Linked DNA regions of Homo sapiens. The protein of the gene in region 1 interacts with the protein of each later gene in a pairwise test. Each region holds a gene or a part of one and is shown in the gene's direction. Other genes may lie near its edges.

What was found. Proteins that work in one complex are often made in the same cells at the same time.
Region 2: the proteins of SGSM2 (region 1) and RGMA interact in a two-hybrid assay, tested with the Homo sapiens proteins (one large-scale study listed by BioGRID and IntAct).
Region 3: the proteins of SGSM2 (region 1) and AFP interact in a two-hybrid assay, tested with the Homo sapiens proteins (one large-scale study listed by BioGRID and IntAct).
Region 4: the proteins of SGSM2 (region 1) and CA12 interact in a two-hybrid assay, tested with the Homo sapiens proteins (one large-scale study listed by BioGRID and IntAct).

The regions. Positions count from the first base shown.
Region 1 is NC_000017.11:2,343,108-2,348,207, forward strand, and holds part of SGSM2 (small G protein signaling modulator 2), read left to right. Parts: intron 1-437; coding exon 438-513; intron 514-1,415; coding exon of another isoform or gene 1,416-1,553; intron 1,554-5,100.
Region 2 is NC_000015.10:93,085,437-93,090,771, reverse strand, and holds the start of RGMA (repulsive guidance molecule A isoform 3 precursor), read left to right. Parts: upstream 1-1,560; 5' UTR 1,561-1,839; coding exon 1,840-1,853; intron 1,854-2,248; exon of another isoform or gene 2,249-2,491; intron 2,492-5,335.
Region 3 is NC_000004.12:73,442,476-73,447,195, forward strand, and holds part of AFP (alpha-fetoprotein isoform 1 precursor), read left to right. Parts: intron 1-871; coding exon 872-969; intron 970-2,517; coding exon 2,518-2,647; intron 2,648-4,720. UniProt on the Homo sapiens protein: Binds copper, nickel, and fatty acids as well as, and bilirubin less well than, serum albumin. Only a small percentage (less than 2%) of the human AFP shows estrogen-binding properties.
Region 4 is NC_000015.10:63,325,372-63,330,091, reverse strand, and holds part of CA12 (carbonic anhydrase 12 isoform 1 precursor), read left to right. Parts: intron 1-1,961; coding exon 1,962-1,994; intron 1,995-2,858; coding exon 2,859-2,943; intron 2,944-3,734; coding exon 3,735-3,807; 3' UTR 3,808-4,720. UniProt on the Homo sapiens protein: Reversible hydration of carbon dioxide.

The DNA.
Region 1 (5,100 bases):
AGGTATGAGACCTACCCCTAACCTTGGAGAATAGGGAGAAAAGGAGGAGGGGCAGGTTGTTTATCTGCAGGCTGTACCGAGATGGTTTGTCTCTAAAGGACAGTATATCTGCCCAGAAGCCCTTCGTGAGCTGAGAACAGATGAGCAAACAGCATCCTATTCCTGTTCTCCAAGGCAGGGCACTTCCACCTGGGCTGGAACATGCACTGATTGTTTGATGGGTTTTTGGCATCTCTTTCCCTGGTTTCCCCTCCAAAAGACTGGAATCAGACTGTGCTGAAGAAACTTTGCTTCCCCACACCTTTCATCCCTGTCATCTCTGCAAGTGTCTGAAAGTGCCCTTCAGACCAGAAGGGCGGAACCAAACTATTTATTTGCCCAGAGGTCTTTGATAAGGGAAAATAATAAAAGCAGTGATGCTGTCCATGTGTCCGCAGGTGAAGCAAATCATGGAGGAGGCTGTCACCAGGAAGTTTGTGCATGAAGACAGCAGCCACATCATTGCTTTATGTGGTGAGTGAGTGACTGAAGGATGATGGGAGGTCGGTCTAGAGCCGAGGACACTGGCCTGGGGCCAGGAAAAGATGAGTCCTCAGGTGCAGTAGCTCTCAAATCTGGCTGCAAGTCCAAATCAACCTGGAAGCTTTTGAAATCCTCTTTGGCCCCATTTGCAGACCTACTAAATCAGGTTCTTCAGGGGTCAAGAATCTGCGTATTTTTTGTTCCCCAGGATAGTAATTCTCACATTTTAGCATGTATCAGAGTCACCTGAAGGGCTTGGTAGAACACAGATTTCTGGGTCCCAACCCTGGAGTTTCTGATTCTAGTAGGTCTGGGGACCCCACTTTGAGAGCCGCTGCCCTAGGTCATTTGAGTTCAGGAACCAGTGCTCTGACTGATTTTGATTTTGACTTCAGGGAGGGGTTTGTGCTTTTCGGATGCTCTGTGCCACTTTCCCTTTGTTTCCCACCCGTGTTGCTCCATGATCCTAACCCCAAGCCCTTGACTGGATGCAAAGGAGCCTGAGCGTGGGCTAGGAGAGGTGGCTAAGGCTTCCAGCCTCAGAAGGGACTCTCTCATCACCTCCTTCTCAGTGTGGCCAAGCCTTCCAGCCCCAGAAAGGAGAGAGTCGCTTATAAACCATTTCCGCCTCCTCAGCCTGAAGACTTTTGCTTTGTAGGAGCAAGCCTATCCCTACGCACAGACTCTTCTTGGATTTCTAGGAATTTCAGCTTCCTCTCAACCCCCCATCTGAAGGGACAGGGAACCATTCACCTTCTCTGTGTTGTATTCCTTGGCCTCTGAGATTGGTGTTGGGGTTTGTGGAGGGAAAATAATGAAAGAACAGATAAGGGAAGGGATGCTTTGGACGGTAGTGTGGCACAGCAGATACAGCTGCCCTTCCCCTCATCCAGCAGCAGATCCCCACCAAGGGCTCACCAGGTGCCAGACACCGTTCACCGTGCAAGGAAATGGCAGTGACAAGATGGACAGAGTCTCTGCCGCAGGAGCTTACATTCTGTTGGGGAGACAGACAGGAAACAAATGCGCAAGTAAATATGTCATCCAATAACTTGGCATGTGATAAGAGCTAGGAAGAAAAAACATGTGGGAGGGCAGTCGGAGAGGCAGCCTCTGAGCAGAGTCTGAGTGACAGACTGGGGTTTGAATCCTGGCGTCCTGCCTTTTAAGTCGTCTTGGACAAGTTTCTTAACTTCTCTCACCCTCAGTTTGCTCCTCTAAAAACAGACTGATGATTCCCACCTCAAGGAACTTTCGTGGGGATTGAGATGATGTGTGTAAATGTTCATTCGTTCGTAGCATTGTAAGCACTCAAAGAATATTCGTCTCTCCTCCTTTGGCTGTTGAGGCTGAAGGTAGGTTTGTAGGACTTGAGTTCATACCATGTCCGTTTGGGAAGGTTTCCCCAGTTCTTTGAGATGGTGGAATAATGATTCCTAGGTTTACAAGACACAGCCTGACCTCAGTTTTTCTCAGCAGAACCTATGCTCTGGAAAAAAAAAAGGCATGCCAGTATTATGATAAGCAACTTTGAAGAGTATTAGAATTCTCGGCCGGGCACAGTGGCTCACGCCTGTAATCCCAGCACTTTGGGAGGTGAGGCAGGTGGATCACCTGAGGTCAGGAGTTCGAGACCAGCCTGGCCAACTTGGTGAAACCCCGTCTCTACTAAAAATACAAAAATTAGCAGGGCGTGGTGGCGGGCGCCTGTAATCCCAGCACTTTGGGAGGTGGAGGTGGGCGGATCACGAGGTCAGGAGATCGAGACCATCCTGGCTAACACGGTGAAACCCCGTCTCTACTAAAAATACAAAAAATTAGCCAGGCGTGGTGGCGGGCGCCTGTAGTCCCAGCTACTCAGGAGGCTGAGGCAGGAGAATGGCGTGAACCCGGGAGGCGGAGCTTGCAGTGAGCCAAGATCGCGCCACTGCACTCCAGCCTGGGTGACAGAGCGAGACTCTGTCTCAAAAAAAAAAAAAAAAAAAAATTCCTACTTTTTAAATACTGACAGCTAATTCCCATTTAAAAAAAAATTGTGTGGGCCACACAAAAGACATCTGCCAGCCTCTGCCAGTGTGCAGCCTCTGTTTTGGGTTCGGTACAGTCACGGAGAACAGGAGCAGGAGAGGTTCCAACAGTATCGGGCTAAGTCAGGCCAGGGTATCTCAGGGCCTACAGACAGAGAAATCCTTATGCTTTGTCAAAATTGGTGCTCAGTGGTGAGCTAAATCCCAATTTGGGCTGAAACTGAGGCTCGTTGAAAGCATTGATTATCAACCTTTTTCCTCTGCCTGCAAAGCAGCTTCCTTGCATTGCATGGTGGAATCACGAGAGACTCTTGCGGGGGACGGGGAGGGAAGACTAGCAAGGTATGGATCAAAAACACCACCCCTCTCTGCCTTTTTGGAGATTCTGATGTGCCAGTCTCCCTCAGTCCCTGGAAAAATGCTCTGAAATGCATTTTTAGTCTGAAGTTGATCCAGACTTAAACTGTGCCTTGCTACTGTCCTAGCCACGTCCGAATTCAGCTTTGTTGTGGGAGAAATGGGAGTATAGAGAACGTGCTGAGAGGTCAAGAGCAGAGTGAAGTCTGTGGAGACTGGATTACCAGCCTAGCGACACCACGGTCCCTAGTTTCAAGGGACCCTTGTGTACTGGGCCCCTCAACTCCACACCGACCCATGGTTCTTGGCAGAGGAGGGTTGGGGGTGACTGAGGAGAGCCAGGCCTAGGCAATACAAGCTTCTCTGAGCTTCTTAGAATGCAGACATTTAAACAGAAAACACAGAGCCTTCCTGGAGAGCCTTCCTGAAGAATCACTGTGTCAAGACCTGACCATGGGCAAACCCAGGAAAGTTTGCAGCCAGATCCCCATTCCTGTTACCCAACGGGAGGGGCAAGACTCCTAGGACTGGCTAGAAAATTGCTTTGTTGAGTGTTTGCTGTGGTTGTTCCTAAACCTGTCTGTCCAGAAGCTGGACATGCAGTAGGCCCCTGCGAGTAGAAACTTTCCTTGTGTGGAAGTTTTCGCTGGCAAACCAGTCTGGCGGCAGCAGGGGGGTGGGTGGGGTTCTCTGTGTGCTGTTCCCAGGCCCGAGGATCAGAACCTATGTAACTGCCACCTCCGTGCCAGTGGAGGGTGGCGCTAGGAGAATGGACTCAAAACTACCACTATGGGGCCAGGCATGGTGACTCACACCTGCAATCCCAGTGCTCTGGGAGGCTGAGGCGGGAGGATCCCTTGAGACCAGAAGCTTGAGACCAGCCTGGGCAATATTACAGGATGCAGTCTCTACAAAAAAATAAATAACTCGCTGGGCATGGTGGTGCACGCCTGTAGTCCCAGCTACTCCAGAGGCTGAGGTAGGAGGATCACTTGAGCCCGGGAGGTTGAGGCTGCAGTGAGCTATGATTGCACCACTGCCCTCCAGCTTGGGCAACAGAGAGAGAGAGAGACCCTGTCTCGTTTGTTTGTTTATTTATTTATTTATTTAGAGACGGAGTCTCACTCTGCTGCCCAGGCTGGAGTTCTGTGGTGCTATCTCAGCTCACTGCAACCTCCGCCTCTCAGGTTCAAGCAATTCTCCTGCCTCAGCCTCCTGAGTAGCTGGGATTACAGGTGCCTGCCACCACACCTAGCTAATTTTTGTATTTTTAGTAGAGACAGGGGTTTCACCATGTTGGCCAGGCTGGTCTCGAACTCCTGACCTCAGGTGATCTGCCCACCTTGGCCTCCCAAAGTGCTGGGATTACAGGTGTGAACCATCACACCCGGCCTCATTTTTTTTTTTTTTTTTTAAACAAAATCCAAAAACTACCACTGTTGGGGAGAGGTCTTTGATATATCCTTTTATCCTTTTTATCTTAAAACATCACATCAAGTTTACATTTTTCTCTATCATATGGTTTTTGGATTTTTTTTCATTTTAATATAAAGACTTACTGTTGAATTAAAGTATAGGCTGGTATCTCCTGTCGCCCCCTCCCCTGGAGGGGAAGGTGCTTTTGTTTTTTCTTTTTTTTTTTTTCCAGATGAGGTCTTGCTATGTTGCCAAGATTGGTCTCAAACTCGTGGGCTCCAGGTATGCTCCTGCCTTGGCATCCCAAGTAACTGGGATTACAGGTGCATACCACCGCCCGAGGTCCATAGTGTTTTATTTACCCTATTCCGATTGGGCACTGAGTTTGCATTTTAACCTTTGGCTGGTAGAGCAGGTTTCAGAGGCTCACAGAGAGGCTTCTGGCCAGGCAGAGCAGGTTCTCAGGCCAATCATATCTCCCAGGACCTCAGCCTCCCCACCCCCCAGGGATTGGGGCAGACACCAGCCTGCCTCCTCAGTCACCAGATTCCCTGCCCTGCTGTGTGCAAGTGGGTCAACATGAGGGTTGCTTCAGACTGAGGATGAGCTGTAATTCGAGAAGGGTGGAATCTGTGGAGCCGGGAATAACATCAGGCTTTATTAACCAGCTCCCTGTTGCTAGGCAGCTTTCATTAGCCAGGAAGGTCTGCCCTGCAGTGAGCTCCTTCAGGGAATGGCAAGGAGATGCTAATAAGCTGGGAGAGAAGCCGGTGCTAGG
Region 2 (5,335 bases), on another chromosome or scaffold:
TGGGAGAGGCCAACATGTAGGGAAAGGTCACTCTAATGAGCGCCTAATTACCGAGTGAGCTCAGTGTTAGGAAGGAAAGGCACGGATGTGAGGACTCCCTAGAGGGTGGGGAAGATGTTGGAGCTGAGCTATGAAAGATGAAGAAATTGGTTATTCACTGAATGTCAGGGCACAGAATGTCAGGGCAGGAAGACCACACACACACACACACACACACACACACACACACACACACACACCCTACTATTCATAGATGAGGAAACTGAGGCCCAGCAGAGCTAGATGACTTGCCGAAGGTCAGAGCTAATTCTAGAAACCCATCCCCAATCCCTTCCTGCTAAACCACTTAATTTTATTTATATCCCAGCTATAGATTATACAAATACACTTGACAAATAAAACGGAGAATATTGAGTTAAAACCACATCTCTGAAGACCACACGCATAAATAACGATCGTGTTTTAATGCGGACGATACCTTTTCATTTTGCAAATCCAGAGTTCTCATCATATCAAAATTCAAGACAGTTTGTTCTGTAAGAAGGGGAAGGTCATAACCCTGTCTAGAATGTACTGGCAAATCTCTCTAACCGTGCAGTGCTAATTTGGGCCTGAGCTGTGTAACCAGACCGACTTCACGCTCCAGCTGGGGTTTCAGATCCACACATGGCGATTGGGTGGCTCTTTGCTGTTTCACAGCAAGGGTCCTTCCCTGGGCTCCCGGAGCCTCTGGGGATTTACTGCTCCCGACGTGGCCGTGTTCAAGCCACTGTGTGCATGCGCTTAATGTTGAAAACATTCTTTTGAAAAGCCCAGGAGATTCCACTCGCAATCTGTGCGTGTGCATGTAAAAGCGCAGAGACTGGAAAGAACCGCGGCAGAGCACACCCTGACCGAAGGTTACCGCGGGGGAGCCGCGGCCGTGGGAGAGCCGCGGCCGTGGGAGGGAGTGCGATACGGTCTTTTCACTCTAGACACTCCTGAGTTATGTACAATTCTACGCAAGAATGTATGCGTGTGTTAGCATGTAATACATATGTATTAGTTTTTTCAGGAAGATTCTTAAACAACAACAAAATCTCTATAGAACAAAGGTGCGTCTCCGCAGAGCGCAACAGCATTTGTCTTGGATGTAACCGCCTTCTCCAGAAATCTCAGAGGAACTCCCCTCGACCACCGCCTAACTGAAGGACACCGTGCGCTCCACCGCAACCCTGCGGGCGATTCGGAAAGTTGGAGGCGCCCCGGGGAGTCGCCGCACTTGCCGCCCGCGCCCCCTAACCTGAGCATTCAAGGAGTCTTGACTTGGCCGCTGGCGCACTCCGCACCCACCCAGCCGGTGCTGATGCGGGAGGGTGGGGCCGCGGCGGGGCGGGGCAACGCGAGCCCGCACCCCGCTCCTCCCCGCCCCTCCCTGCCGGCCCCGCCCGCGCGCGCCCCCCGCCCGCGGCCCGGGCGCCCGGCCCGCCCCCTCCCCTCGGCGCGCAAACGAACCTCGCGACGCCGCGCTCGGCGGCGGGCGGGGGCCGGGCGAGGGAGGGGGCTGGTCCCGGCCGCCCCACTCTGCAGTTGTCTCCCGAGCGCTGGCTGCGCCGCCCGAGCCGCTGGGCCGGGGAAGCACTGGCCGTTCGCTCCCGGGCCGGCTCCGCCAGGCGCTCGCAGGCATGCAGCCCGGGAGCAGGAGGCGCTCCCCGGGCCGCTGCTGAGCCGGCCGGGGCGGCGGGGACCAGCGCCAGCGGAGCCCCTCCCACCTTGCCCCGGGGCAGACGAGCGGCGCCCCGACACCCCCTCTTCTCCCGCAGCCCCGCCAGCGCCACCCCCCGCGGGCCGCAGGGGCTCATGCAGCCGCCAAGGTAAGCGCGGGTCGGGAGCCGGGCAGACCCGGCTCTGACATCTCCGAGGCGCCGCCGACACATGCCGGGGCCACGGCGCTGCTTTGGTCTTCCTTAGCCCCGCGTCTCATCTTGCTCCCATCTTGCCCACATTTGGAGCTTTGCTGCGCCTCTATCGCTTTAGCTGTTGGCAGCAGGAAAGTTTTTGTGGTTTGGTGTTTGTTCTTTTTTCCTAAAATACTCTCCCCCGGGCAGCCGCCAGCGCGCGTGGTTGGGCAGACCCGGCACACGTCCCTTACACCGTGTGCGGGCTGGGAGCTCCTTCCCTCAGCCCGGCTCGCGGAGCCCCGGACGGAGCCGGCCACCCGACTGTCCCGCCGTGAACCCCCATTGGCCCGCGCCGCCCGGGCCCCCGCCTCCCGCTCGACGCCCGGCTGCGGAGCTGCCTGGCCATCTCCTGCCCTCGGGGATGTCGGCGCAGTGCACCGCGTGGGCTCGCGTCCCGGCGGCCCTTTGCCTCGGCGCGCCGGCGTACGGGAAGGTGCGGACCTTGGATTGAGGGCCGAGGATGCCCATTGCCAAGCCGCCCCGGCTTTCCTAAGTGGACGGGAGGGCACGGCGACGATTCAGCGCCGGCTCGCGCCGCAGCTCAACCCAGGGTACAAGCCCGGGCATGGGGGACAGGTGTATTCAATGGGAGGGCGGGTGTGGGGGACGCTCGGGTGCAATTCGGGATTGCGTCTTATTAATGTAATTGTATTAGACTTGCTCGGAGGTAGAATCAGTTCTCCCAAATTGAGATTTCTAATGGGAGCCTGTGAGCTGCTATTATGTGGTGTGGTTTTGGGAGGTGTTGGGTTGTATTTATTTTATAAATTGGGTGTCTCGCGGGCGGAGTAGGGGAAGTAGCGCCATCTAGCGGAAGTGGTGAGCTGTGCATTCCTCTTAGGCTGCGAAGTTGTTGGGTGTTCTCAAAGTAGTCTCCCGCACAAGGTGGAGAGGCGGGAACCAGCCCTCGCCTCCAGGAAGGAGGCTACAGAAGCTCTCTGAGTATCGACGGTACCAGGGAGAACCCCGACCTCCCATGCTCAGCACATTGAGCTCAGGGGACGAAATTGCGGGTCGTGTTGAGTGGCATGCTGTCACCTAAAGGAGCTCCATCACCTTCTCTGTTTGGTTTTAGACTCTTCCAGCAAAAACGTAATATAAAATGTTAACTGCTGTAAGAAGATGCCCCTTCCGCAGGTATCTGGTGCAGAGATCTTGAAAACCAATGCACAAACCTCTGTCTTCTCCTGTGCATCACAAACGGGTGATTTCTTGGGTGGATTTTGAGCCATGACCCCTAGAAAAGAGAGTAACTGTGCTCCGAAGGGCAACAGGAGGAGAACTGGGAGAGGGCCTCCTGCCCATTTGTGCAGGAACAGAATAGTGTACCCAAACTGGGTTTTGTGGTTTTTTTTTTTTTTTTTTTTGCACATACAAAGAAGGGGTTTCTTGCTGTTACCACAGCAAGTGACAAGCAAGCCCCCTTTACAGGGACATGATCTCCAATTAACAACTGGGGCAGACGTGGCTGGATGGCAAGTTCTGCAGACAAAGGCTCTGGGTGGGGCACCCACACATCCAGGCGGGCTCCACGTTCTCTGTGGCTGGTTTTTGCTGCCACCTTCCAGGCCAGATAATATATTAGCAGTGAGCTGGGCTCACCCGGTTCTGAAGGGCACCCTGGCCCCTTGTAGAGCAGTGTAGTGGTCTACTGTAGTACCCCCTTGAGACTCTCTGGGCTGTGCTGGTAGTGAAAGAGGTCTTAGCCTCCTTTTTTCAAGTACCCTGCTTCCATTATTTCCCTCCCAGGTGTCAGACAGTTGCTTACATTCTCCAATAGACATATGAAATGGTGGGTGGCTGGTCTGCCCCGTCATGCTGTCTCAAACTGTGTCTCCATTGGTAGGTATTTATGTCATCATGAGACTTGTGACAGACGAGGTCTTAGAATAGCTTGGCATCTCATTCAAGGAGGGCACCTTTGACTTTTGCTAAGAAACCTCTGCCTGCTTTCTCTTTTTACAAACCTCCTCCAAGGAATAACTTGCTGCTTCCCAGTGTATGTAATAATAGACAATAAAGGCACAAGAATCTCCTTTTTAATACAATCCCTTGCTCTTCAGCAGCCCTGTGAGAAGCCAAGCCCAAGAATTCTTAGACGAGCAGTTGCAAAATGAAATAAATAGGGACTGAGCATCCCTGACACTGGGACAGGGAGTTTTTCAGCCATTCTTCCAGGGATGCTTGCTGCTCCCAGGAAGCAGGCAGGAATGGGTGCTGGTATTTTCAGTTTCTCAGAAGAAACTGATGGCCAGAAAGCAGAAGGGATATGGCCAGTGTTCTGTGAGTCTAAAGTGCGTTTTTCCCCCTACAACCTTGCTACCAAATGAATTAAGTTCTAGCGCTTGTTTTTACCAAGTATGGTTGCAAAATTTGTTCCTGCCTTGAAGCATGCAGTATAGACATGAAAGAAGGCACGGTCACCGATCCATCAAGAAGCCTGCCATCCAGGGAAAGAGGCAGGAAGTATCCAAGTGCAATTGAGCAAAAACATAGAAGGATTATCTGAAAGCAGCGCAGGCAAATTGGAATCTGTTAGTTCTGTGAAACGAAATGACACTACTCCTTACAGGTAATTATTCTAGAACTTGACTTATAACATCCCAAAGGTAAGTTTAGTTAACTTTTAAGTGTCTGTGGTGTTCCTGTGGCTCTTTTAGGGAATGGCTTTGCTTCCATTATGTAGCCATTCCACAAACTTAACTGAACATAAATTTAACCTGAAGAAGGGAAGCTCCAGGTTTCCCCACCTGTTTGGTATCCAGCCTATCCAAAAGACAGGCTCCTCTTTTTCTTATTTTGAGCAAATGACTGCTCAGTTTCAGCCTCTCTTCTCTTAGCAACAGAGCTATAAAGGAGCAATGAATAGGGCAGTGGAAAAAATTAAGGATTGCCTTACCCAAGTATGCATACAAGGCCAGGCAGAAGTCAGTTTCCTTGGTGACAGATGAACAAATGAACTCTATTGAAAGGATACCCAGTTTCTTAGCCAGGTCCGTCCTGTGAGTAGAAGTGCTGTATCATGTTAGAACCCAGGGGTCAGGAGGCAAGAATGCCTAGTGAGGTGTGAAACTTTACAATTCTTAGGGCAGGAAGAAGAAGGAATTTTAAAAGTAGGGCAGAAATTGACAAAATAAATGCAAATGTCTTTTATAACCTCATATAAAAAGTTTTAAGTCACTGGTAACTGACTAACATAAAAATGTACTATGTACCTACCCAACTTACGAAATGATTATATCCAGATTACCACAGTAAATAATGGAAGTGTAGCAAACAGTTTATGCAGAGAGTGACTACAGAATTGCTGGTTGGATTTACTTTTCTCATTTTTCAGTTGCTTGTTTAAAGCAGTGCTATGAGGTGAAGAACTTTCAGAAAGCAAAATACTGGAT
Region 3 (4,720 bases), on another chromosome or scaffold:
CATTAAAACAAAACAAAGTTAAAAATGAAAACGTGCTTAATTGTGGAGAGTATCGTTTTTGGAATAGAGAAATAGTTCAGCAGTCTGATATTCTTCGAGTGAACAAAACTGGATTTGCTGGTTTTTATTATCTATTCATTAAGTCAACAATAATTTTATTATTAAGGAAGTGAGTTTGATGGGATAAAGAAGGAAAGACAGACAGACAGAAAGAGAGAAAGAGAGGGTGCTATAAATGGGAAGGAGTAAGTGAAAGAAAACGGAGAAAAGGAGGAGCAGAGGAGAGAGAAAAAATGAAGAACTATGATAAATGCTTTATACTTACTGTTTTTTTAAACCTTAGAACAAATTTGAGGTGTAAGTATTTTTGTCCTTTAACAAACTAGGAAAGAGGTTTAGAGAAGAAAATTTTTTTTAGGTTTAGAGAGGTAGAATAATATCCACCATTAACTACTTGCTACCAGCAGTCCTATAACAAAAATTTCCTGAGAACTGACTACTCTCAGTGTCAAGCCGTGATACAATCGTATTTTTTGTAACTGAGAAGACACTTAAGAAATTAGCAGGCTTCAATTTGTCTTTAAGCTGTTTAAAGGTACAGTTGTTCATTTATGATCCCCAGTATAAAAGTTATGTTTTTGTTTCAAGGTACTTTGAGTAAATTTGTCTGGCACAGATGCATATAAACTAACCCAAAAGAATAAATGAGTCAATAATATTCTGCGATAATGTATGACATTTATAATTTTTAGTAAAAAACATATTTTATGGAATTTCATTTTACCTATACTTGTTGTTTTTCTAAATATTAGAGCTTGTAAAGAAAATGTTAGTATATGCTTTCATGACATTTTGTTTCCTCTACATCTAGGCAGCAACAGTTACAAAAGAATTAAGAGAAAGCAGCTTGTTAAATCAACATGCATGTGCAGTAATGAAAAATTTTGGGACCCGAACTTTCCAAGCCATGTAAGTTCAAGTTCTATCTAGGGAAGAGGGTGAGAGCTACAGAACTACCATTTTGCAATTTGGGTTCGTTTTTTTAATTGTTGCTGTTTTAGAGAATGAAGACCCCTTTGTGACCCCTTTGATGAGGGCTAATGGGATTAGAACCATGAACTCTTAGGATCAGAAGGAAGCTAACGGATAAGTCAGTTTAACACTTACTAAAGCCTAGCTGAGATAATACATAGAAAAGACTTTTAAAGTTTATGTTATTTACCTGTTCTTTAAGACACTTAAGTTCTGGCCTGCCATCAAATTATACCTCATCACTAGACCATATTTTTCTAGCTCTTCTACAAAATAAGTCAGCCTTCACTGAGTGTCATTTAAAACTTTTGCCTTAACAAGAAATTCTTTATATTAATTGTGTTTCTTAATCTTCTATAAGGCTCTTTATAGCATTTATTGCTTCCCATAAAAATATTCCTTTGAGGCAATAATATTAGAATCTAGTGTCAGGAGAAAAGAACATTTTAAATTATATAACTTCTTTAAAGTACTCATCAACTCTTTTATGATAAAACATTTCTAGTATATGAAAATATCTGAGCTGCTAATCGAATAGTAGTAAGTATATATATTCAGAGTTTATTTGATTGCTGTTTGGTTAAATAACACGTTAAAGCATATTGTAGACAATGGAAATCTAGAATGAAGTTTTTAGTAATAGAATTAGTTCTAAAGACTGAAATTTCTTCTTGTAAGAAGTCAGATTTATGCCTTAACTACCCTCCAACTCAATTAGAAATTGAAAGATTAATTTATGACCTACTTTAAAAAAATTTATCTTAGTAATAAAATAGAAATTGAGATAGTATTATAATACCCTTATCATTTGCTATCCATAAGTGAAAGCTAAGTGGTCTAAATTTATAGAGAAGATCCATCTTTATCAGAAGCAGGAGTAACACTATTTTCTCTAGGAGCAATGGTTTTACAAAGACAACTCTTAAAATTTAATGAAATATGCAGAGGAAACCAGAATTTTTATTTCTTACTTCTTTTTTGGCCACATTACTCTCTTGGCACACTGGTATGCCTGAAATGTTTAATCTGCTCCACTTTCTTGTCCCATTTCATTGATTTGCACATACGCCTCCTTTCCTGGATTCTCAGAAGTATTTTTTACCCCAGTAAAAAATGGTTCTCATTTTCATGGAATTTTCCATTTCTTAATTGTTTATCCTTTTAAAGTTTTATGTCCACTCAATACAAATGCTCAGCATAAGGGTTGAATGGCAAAAATAATTTACCTTAATTCTTAAGACATGTTTTAGGAAAAGATAAATTATTTCTAAACCATTTGTGGGGCCAGCTCACAGTTTACAGAGCTACCACCTTGAAAGATATGGCTGGAATCAAGCCTTAAAACATGTTTCCTTTTCTTTTTAAACAACAAGGGAATTTCAGTCATTTCTCTTTGAAACTTCTACTGTAGTAATACTCTATAAATTCTATTTTATTTTGACAGATAACCAAGAAATTAATTTCTAATTTCTTTTTTTTCCCTAGAACTGTTACTAAACTGAGTCAGAAGTTTACCAAAGTTAATTTTACTGAAATCCAGAAACTAGTCCTGGATGTGGCCCATGTACATGAGCACTGTTGCAGAGGAGATGTGCTGGATTGTCTGCAGGATGGGGTGAAGAGTCTTGCTTCTTAAAATAGAAGATTTTCACTCCCTTTTCTTTCTTTTTGTCTCATTCTAAAAGGGAGAAGGTTGTTTGACTTGAATTGGTTACAGAGTATGTAAACTAGGTGACTCCTTAAATTTGCAGAATTCTCGGTAGTAAAACTTAAACCATCTTTTGTTGATCCTGGCTTTCACTTTAGCTATACCCCTTTTTGTGAAACCAAGGCTCATCTATTTCTTACTTCTAAAAAAACCGTGGGAACTTCTCAGAAGGCTTCTCCATAGTTACTTGGAGGACGGGAGGAAACTAAGGTTTAATGTATTTATTTTTTCATTCATTTATTCTTTCATTTGACAAATAAATATATATTAAATACTTTCTATCTGCTAGCCACTATGACAGACACTTGTTTTAAAAGCACAGGCTGACCTCAAGGAATTCACAGTCTGATAGGAGAGATAAGACAGTGACCTCCTTGGAGTTAGGGACTGCCTTGGTTTACTGTTATCTCCATAGCACAATGCCTGGCACATGGAAGGCATTCTATAATAGTTTGTTAAATGAACGAATGCAATAAAAATTGCACAAGTAACTGTCCTACCAGGTAAAAAGCTAGCCTTGCCAAAGACAAGTGTGAATAAAGTGGTCTCGGAGAATTAGAAAACAAAATTTAAAAAACCCAGCAACAGTTTCTTGAGTGTGCTCTAGTCAGTGGTGGTTTAAGCAGTGTGGCATTGGCTTATTTTGGCTAACCCTAGACTTCCTAGATTTTACAAGAGAGGACTGTTGACCCTCAGATTACTCTGTCTCTGTGGGCTCCATGACATACCAAAGAGATTAAAATCCAAGGAGCTTAAAAATTACTGCTCTTAGGTACTCAAATGGCTTGATAACCAGCACTGGACTATGGTTTCCAGAAGGCTGAAAGTGAAGATAAAATGCTCATTTCAGCCCATCCGATGGCAATTCAGTGAGATGCTTGAAGTAAGCAAGAAGCCAAGGCTGCAGAGGAGGCCTGAGAGTGACAGTCCCTGAGGAGCTGGGGAAGAAGTGGGAGGAGGCAGCCTGGCAGGCGACTGTACTACTTTACTTGTTTTTCTTCTAAAAATATGGCATACTAGGAAAACCAACAAGAAGTATTTTGTTTTTCTTTGAGCTCAGTTTTCCCATTTTGAACGGACAATTTTACTGTTTCTCGTTGTCATTTTTAAAAAGTTAATTTTTTCAATTTTTGGAGCTCATAACCACCCTTTTCCTTTAAAGTGGAAACATTAATTTCAGCATGATATGTAAGTTGGATTTTGATAGCTGAATAATGGGTTCTAATTATCTTTGCTGAGAATGTACAGAATTTTCAGTCCCATGACAGGTATATATGTAAGCTCTGCCTCTCTCTGGCCACTTAGGTGCATTGCCATTTTATTATCTATAGACTGCCCTCTGAAGGTCATAGTCAGTCACTGCAGTATGTTCTGATAAAGATGATTATCATTCTTACGGAATTTCTCGTGGAGCAGAAAGTTTGCTCTCCATGTTATGATAAAGATGATTATCATTCTTACGGAATTTCTCGTGGAGCAGAAAGTTTGCTCTCCATGTTATGATACCAGTTGCAAGTGTTGTTTAGGGGCAAATTTGAATGCTAATAGAAATACATATAGCAACATGCATCCTATTTTATTTGAGCACATTTCCCTCTTATTTGTAAAGGTTTTCAATTAAAATAACATAGGATTTAGCTTACAACTATGGAAAGAAGAATTGAACAAACAGGTAAGTGGAAAGGAATGAGAAAAGGCAAAAGTGGGGAGAAAGCACTAAAACGGGAGACAAGTTAAAATTTCTTTTTAATTGATAGGTCACGTTCTCACTCTATTTGCCTTTAAGGGAAGAAAGCAATCAAGTTAATATGTTTTCCTTCATTGTATAGTATGTAACTACGGACACTATTAGAGGAGGGATTTGTGTAGCACTTAGGACATTATACTTGATAATTTCCAAGGGTCTTTCTAGATTTAAAAGTCTGATTCTAACGTAGTAATAAAAATAAAGGCCCAATTTTCTCTTTAATATTGGCTGAA
Region 4 (4,720 bases), on another chromosome or scaffold:
AGCAGCTGGTGGTGGTGAGCAGAGTAGGGAGAATAGGCTTCCCTGTCCTTGGGGACAGCTCTTCTCCCTGCCTGCTCTGCTAACCCTCACAGCAGCCCGGTGCCACCTGGGGAAGCCAGACCAGGAACCCCCAGGGCCCAGCCTTGGACCAGGGAGGCTCTGCAGGTTCAATGTGAGATTGCAGAAAAAGACAATCGGAAAAGCACACGGCTGATGGCTCCTGGGGAATCAGCTAGACTTGGGCCATACGACAGGAGAAGGGGCAGTGAGCAAAACCTCACCCTGCAGCCTCAGATCTGGTTCCCCAGGCTGTTAAGGGCCCCAAGGGAGAGTCCTTGGCCCCCTGCTGGCATCTTACACTTGACCAGGGCTCTCCCAGGGCCTCAGCCACCACTGTGGGTTCTATGGGCACAGGATCTTCTGTGTCAGGCTGGGTGGCCACCATCTGTACAACTGTGGCTCCCAGTGTGAGTTAGAACAAATACCCCTTCTTCCTCCAAGACACACACACATGCTAGAAGTTTCCATTGAGATGAGAAAACCACCAGACAGAAGGGTACCTGTAAATCTACACTTTCTTTAGACAAAGGACCTGATTAGGAGAATGGGGAATGGCTGTGGGAACCTTGGAAAAAACAGGCTGAGGGTTTTCAGGGGAGACTTCATGACTGGGATCCTCTGCTCACTCAAGACAATGGATTCTCATGTGATTTTCCCCCCAGGAGGTGGCTAGTAGGCTGACTGTGAGACTTAGGTAGCTGGGCACGGGTTCAGCCACACTGAGGACTTCTCTCTCACCTTATTTATCCTCAACAGTAACTTGCTGGTTGAAGCCGTAATACCCTGGTTCCATGGAGCAGAGAAGTGGGGCTGATGTGGTGAAGGCGTTTGTCCAGGAGGGACAAAGCAAAAATAGAACCAAACCATGATGACAAGCTGATGGGCTGGGGGAGAAGTCTGGTGATGGATTCCTTGCTTAGGAAGTGAGGCAGGTACCAGGGACATGGACAGGAGCCTGCCCAAGCAGGCTTTGATCCCTACCTTTCTTCATCTTTCCTCTTTGGCCATGTTGTATTAAAAACTGAAATCTTGGCTGGGCGCCGTGGCTCACACCTGTAATCCCCATAGTTTGGGAGGCCGAGGCAGGTGGATCACTTGAGATCAGGAGTTCGAGACCAGCCTGGTCAACATGGCAAAACCCCATCTCTACTAAAAATACAAAAATTAGCCAAGCGTTGTGGTGCACGCCTGCAGTCCCAGCTGCTCGGGAGGCTGAGGCATGAGAATTGCTTGAACCCAGGAGGTGGAGGTTGCAGTGAGCCAAGATTGTGCCACTGCACTCCAGCATGTGTGACAGAGCGAGACTCTGTCTCAAAAAAAACACAAACAAACAAACAAACAAAAACTCAAGTGAAGTCTTGCCCTAGCCAGGAAACTGTTGTGATAAAGGAGCATCGGGGCCGGGCGCAGGGGCTCACGCCTATAATCCCAACACTTTGGAAGGCCAAGGCAGGTGGATAATGAGGTCAGGAGTTCAAGACCAGCCTGGCCAAGATGGTGAAACCCTGTCTCTACTAAAAATCCAAAAATTAGCTGGGTGTGGTGGCAGGTGCTTGTAATCCCAGCTACTTGGGAGACTGAGGCAGAGAATTGCTTGAACCCAGGAGGCGGAGGTTGAAGTGAGCCAAGATCGCACCACTGCATTCCAGCCTGGGCGGCAGAGCGAGATTCCATCTCAAAAAAAAAAAAAAAAGGAGCATCGGAAGGAGGGATTGCAGTATGAATTCCCTAGATGGGCAATTTCCTGTACTTCATCAGGCAATCCCTGAGCCAAGGGTGGACATCCCTAGAGGTCTGTCAGCCTAAGACCAAACAAATGGTAGAGCGTCTCTCAACACGCTGCTCAAATCCAGTGTGGTTTGACTCTAGAGTAACCTCGTCTTTTCCTCTCCCCTTTTAAGTGCAAGTCTGTACTGCGGCAGGACTGAGTCTGGGTATGTGGCTGGGCAGCCAGCCGTGCATGCTGCAGCTGGGTGATCACTGTGATTCTTGGTGTGATCCAAGCCCGTCCTCTCTGCTTCTCTGTACTATTGCTCTGGCTCCTGGCCCTCTCCTTGCTATGGGTCTTACCCTCAAGTCGCTCTGTGATTCAAAGATGAACTGCCAATCAAATGTTCCTCTAATGAAAGATCCAATCACTCTACAGCATGTGTGTATTCAAAGAACCTATCTAAGACTTTCTTTTGGTCATGGTGGGAGGCTGTTGCTGAAAACATACCAGAGCCCATTGTGGAGGTCAGCTGACAGGCCGCATGACCTTGGCAATGGACTACTGGTCATCTGGGACTGCTTAGGACTGTGCAATGGAACTTGGGGGCAAAACTGATGGAGACAGCCAATGGGCCTTAAATCCAGCAGGCAAAGACAGAGTAAGTTCTTATTTGTGTAGCCCAGGGCTTATCAAAGTGTGGTTCTTGGACCACGTGCATCAGTATCAGCTGTAAGTATTTGGCAAAATGCAGATTCCCGGGCCCTGCACCAAACAGATTGACTTTGAATCTCTGGGGGTTGGGCTAAAAAAAAAAAAAAAACCCTACATTTTAAACAAGCTCTTCAGATGACCCTTGTGTAAGTTTGAGAGCATCTGCTGGAAAACCACTAGAATTTGCAAACGGCCACCTCAAAATACTCCAGCCAGTCCCACTAAGCCAAAGACCAGAATCTGAGAACAGGGATGGGGAAATTATTCCTTTCTGTGGATGATTATGCAGCTGGGCCATGATTTCACACCCGGGGGCCATGGGCTAAGATGGAGGGGAAGGAAGGAATGTAATGTGTGCCCTCTACCTCTTCACCAGGCATCATCCTCTCACTGGCCCTGGCTGGCATTCTTGGCATCTGTATTGTGGTGGTGGTGTCCATTTGGCTTTTCAGAAGGAAGAGGTGAGCTGGTTTGGGTCCAAAATGGGAATGGACAGCTATGTGTCCATGATGATTAGTCTGCCTGGGAAGGCAGCTTTGTGGCATGAAGAGCCGCAGTCACCTGGACCACCACTTACCCTAGGAGGGCCGTCCCCAAAGCACCCGTGCCCTGGCCTCCTTTGCATGAGACGCACATGTGACCCTGGTCGTTCAAAGGGTTCAGGGGTCACTGTGCTCAGATTTGGAAGCGTGTGTGCCTTGCTTGCTGCTATTGCATGGCCTTGGACGAGTCTCTTGACTTGGGGCTTGTGCCTGAAGTTAAGCAGCCAGGCTGTCTTCTTATCAAGATCTTTACATATGCTTTTTGGTCTATGAATTCAAAAAGAAAGATGAAGGAAAACCTGATCTCTCACTCACATTAACTCTTCATGCCCTTTGTCCATGTTTTTATTGTGACATTTGGCTTTTCCTAAAACCTAATTTATTTGGGGGGGGTATGAAAAATAAAAAGGTTTCTGGGAACCCTGTTATGGAATCAGAGGTTTGAAGAGGGGGGTGACAACGAGACCTCTTTCAAAATATAGGTCTACTACTGTTAGGTGTGAAAGAGAACAGTTGGAAAACGAACAAGTTCTGTTTTTGTTAAAGCTTTATTTGGTGACACTCCCTCCCAAGACCAACAGAATTGGGGAAAGGTCCCAAAGAGAGGAATCCAACTTTTAAAAACGGCCTCATTCCATACCTGAGTCAGGCTGCTCTCTGGCTCGCTCGCTCTCCTCTCTAACAAGAGTTATGTGTTCTTTCTGTTCTAGTATCAAAAAAGGTGATAACAAGGGAGTCATTTACAAGCCAGCCACCAAGATGGAGACTGAGGCCCACGCTTGAGGTCCCCGGAGCTCCCGGGCACATCCAGGAAGGACCTTGCTTTGGACCCTACACACTTCGGCTCTCTGGACACTTGCGACACCTCAAGGTGTTCTCTGTAGCTCAATCTGCAAACATGCCAGGCCTCAGGGATCCTCTGCTGGGTGCCTCCTTGCCTTGGGACCATGGCCACCCCAGAGCCATCCGATCGATGGATGGGATGCACTCTCAGACCAAGCAGCAGGAATTCAAAGCTGCTTGCTGTAACTGTGTGAGATTGTGAAGTGGTCTGAATTCTGGAATCACAAACCAAGCCATGCTGGTGGGCCATTAATGGTTGGAAAACACTTTCATCCGGGGCTTTGCCAGAGCGTGCTTTCAAGTGTCCTGGAAATTCTGCTGCTTCTCCAAGCTTTCAGACAAGAATGTGCACTCTCTGCTTAGGTTTTGCTTGGGAAACTCAACTTCTTTCCTCTGGAGACGGGGCATCTCCCTCTGATTTCCTTCTGCTATGACAAAACCTTTAATCTGCACCTTACAACTCGGGGACAAATGGGGACAGGAAGGATCAAGTTGTAGAGAGAAAAAGAAAACAAGAGATATACATTGTGATATATTAGGGACACTTTCACAGTCCTGTCCTCTGGATCACAGACACTGCACAGACCTTAGGGAATGGCAGGTTCAAGTTCCACTTCTTGGTGGGGATGAGAAGGGAGAGAGAGCTAGAGGGACAAAGAGAATGAGAAGACATGGATGATCTGGGAGAGTCTCACTTTGGAATCAGAATTGGAATCACATTCTGTTTATCAAGCCATAATGTAAGGACAGAATAATACAATATTAAGTCCAAATCCAACCTCCTGTCAGTGGAGCAGTTATGTTTTATACTCTACAGATTTTACAAATAATGAGGCTGTTCCTTGAAAATGTG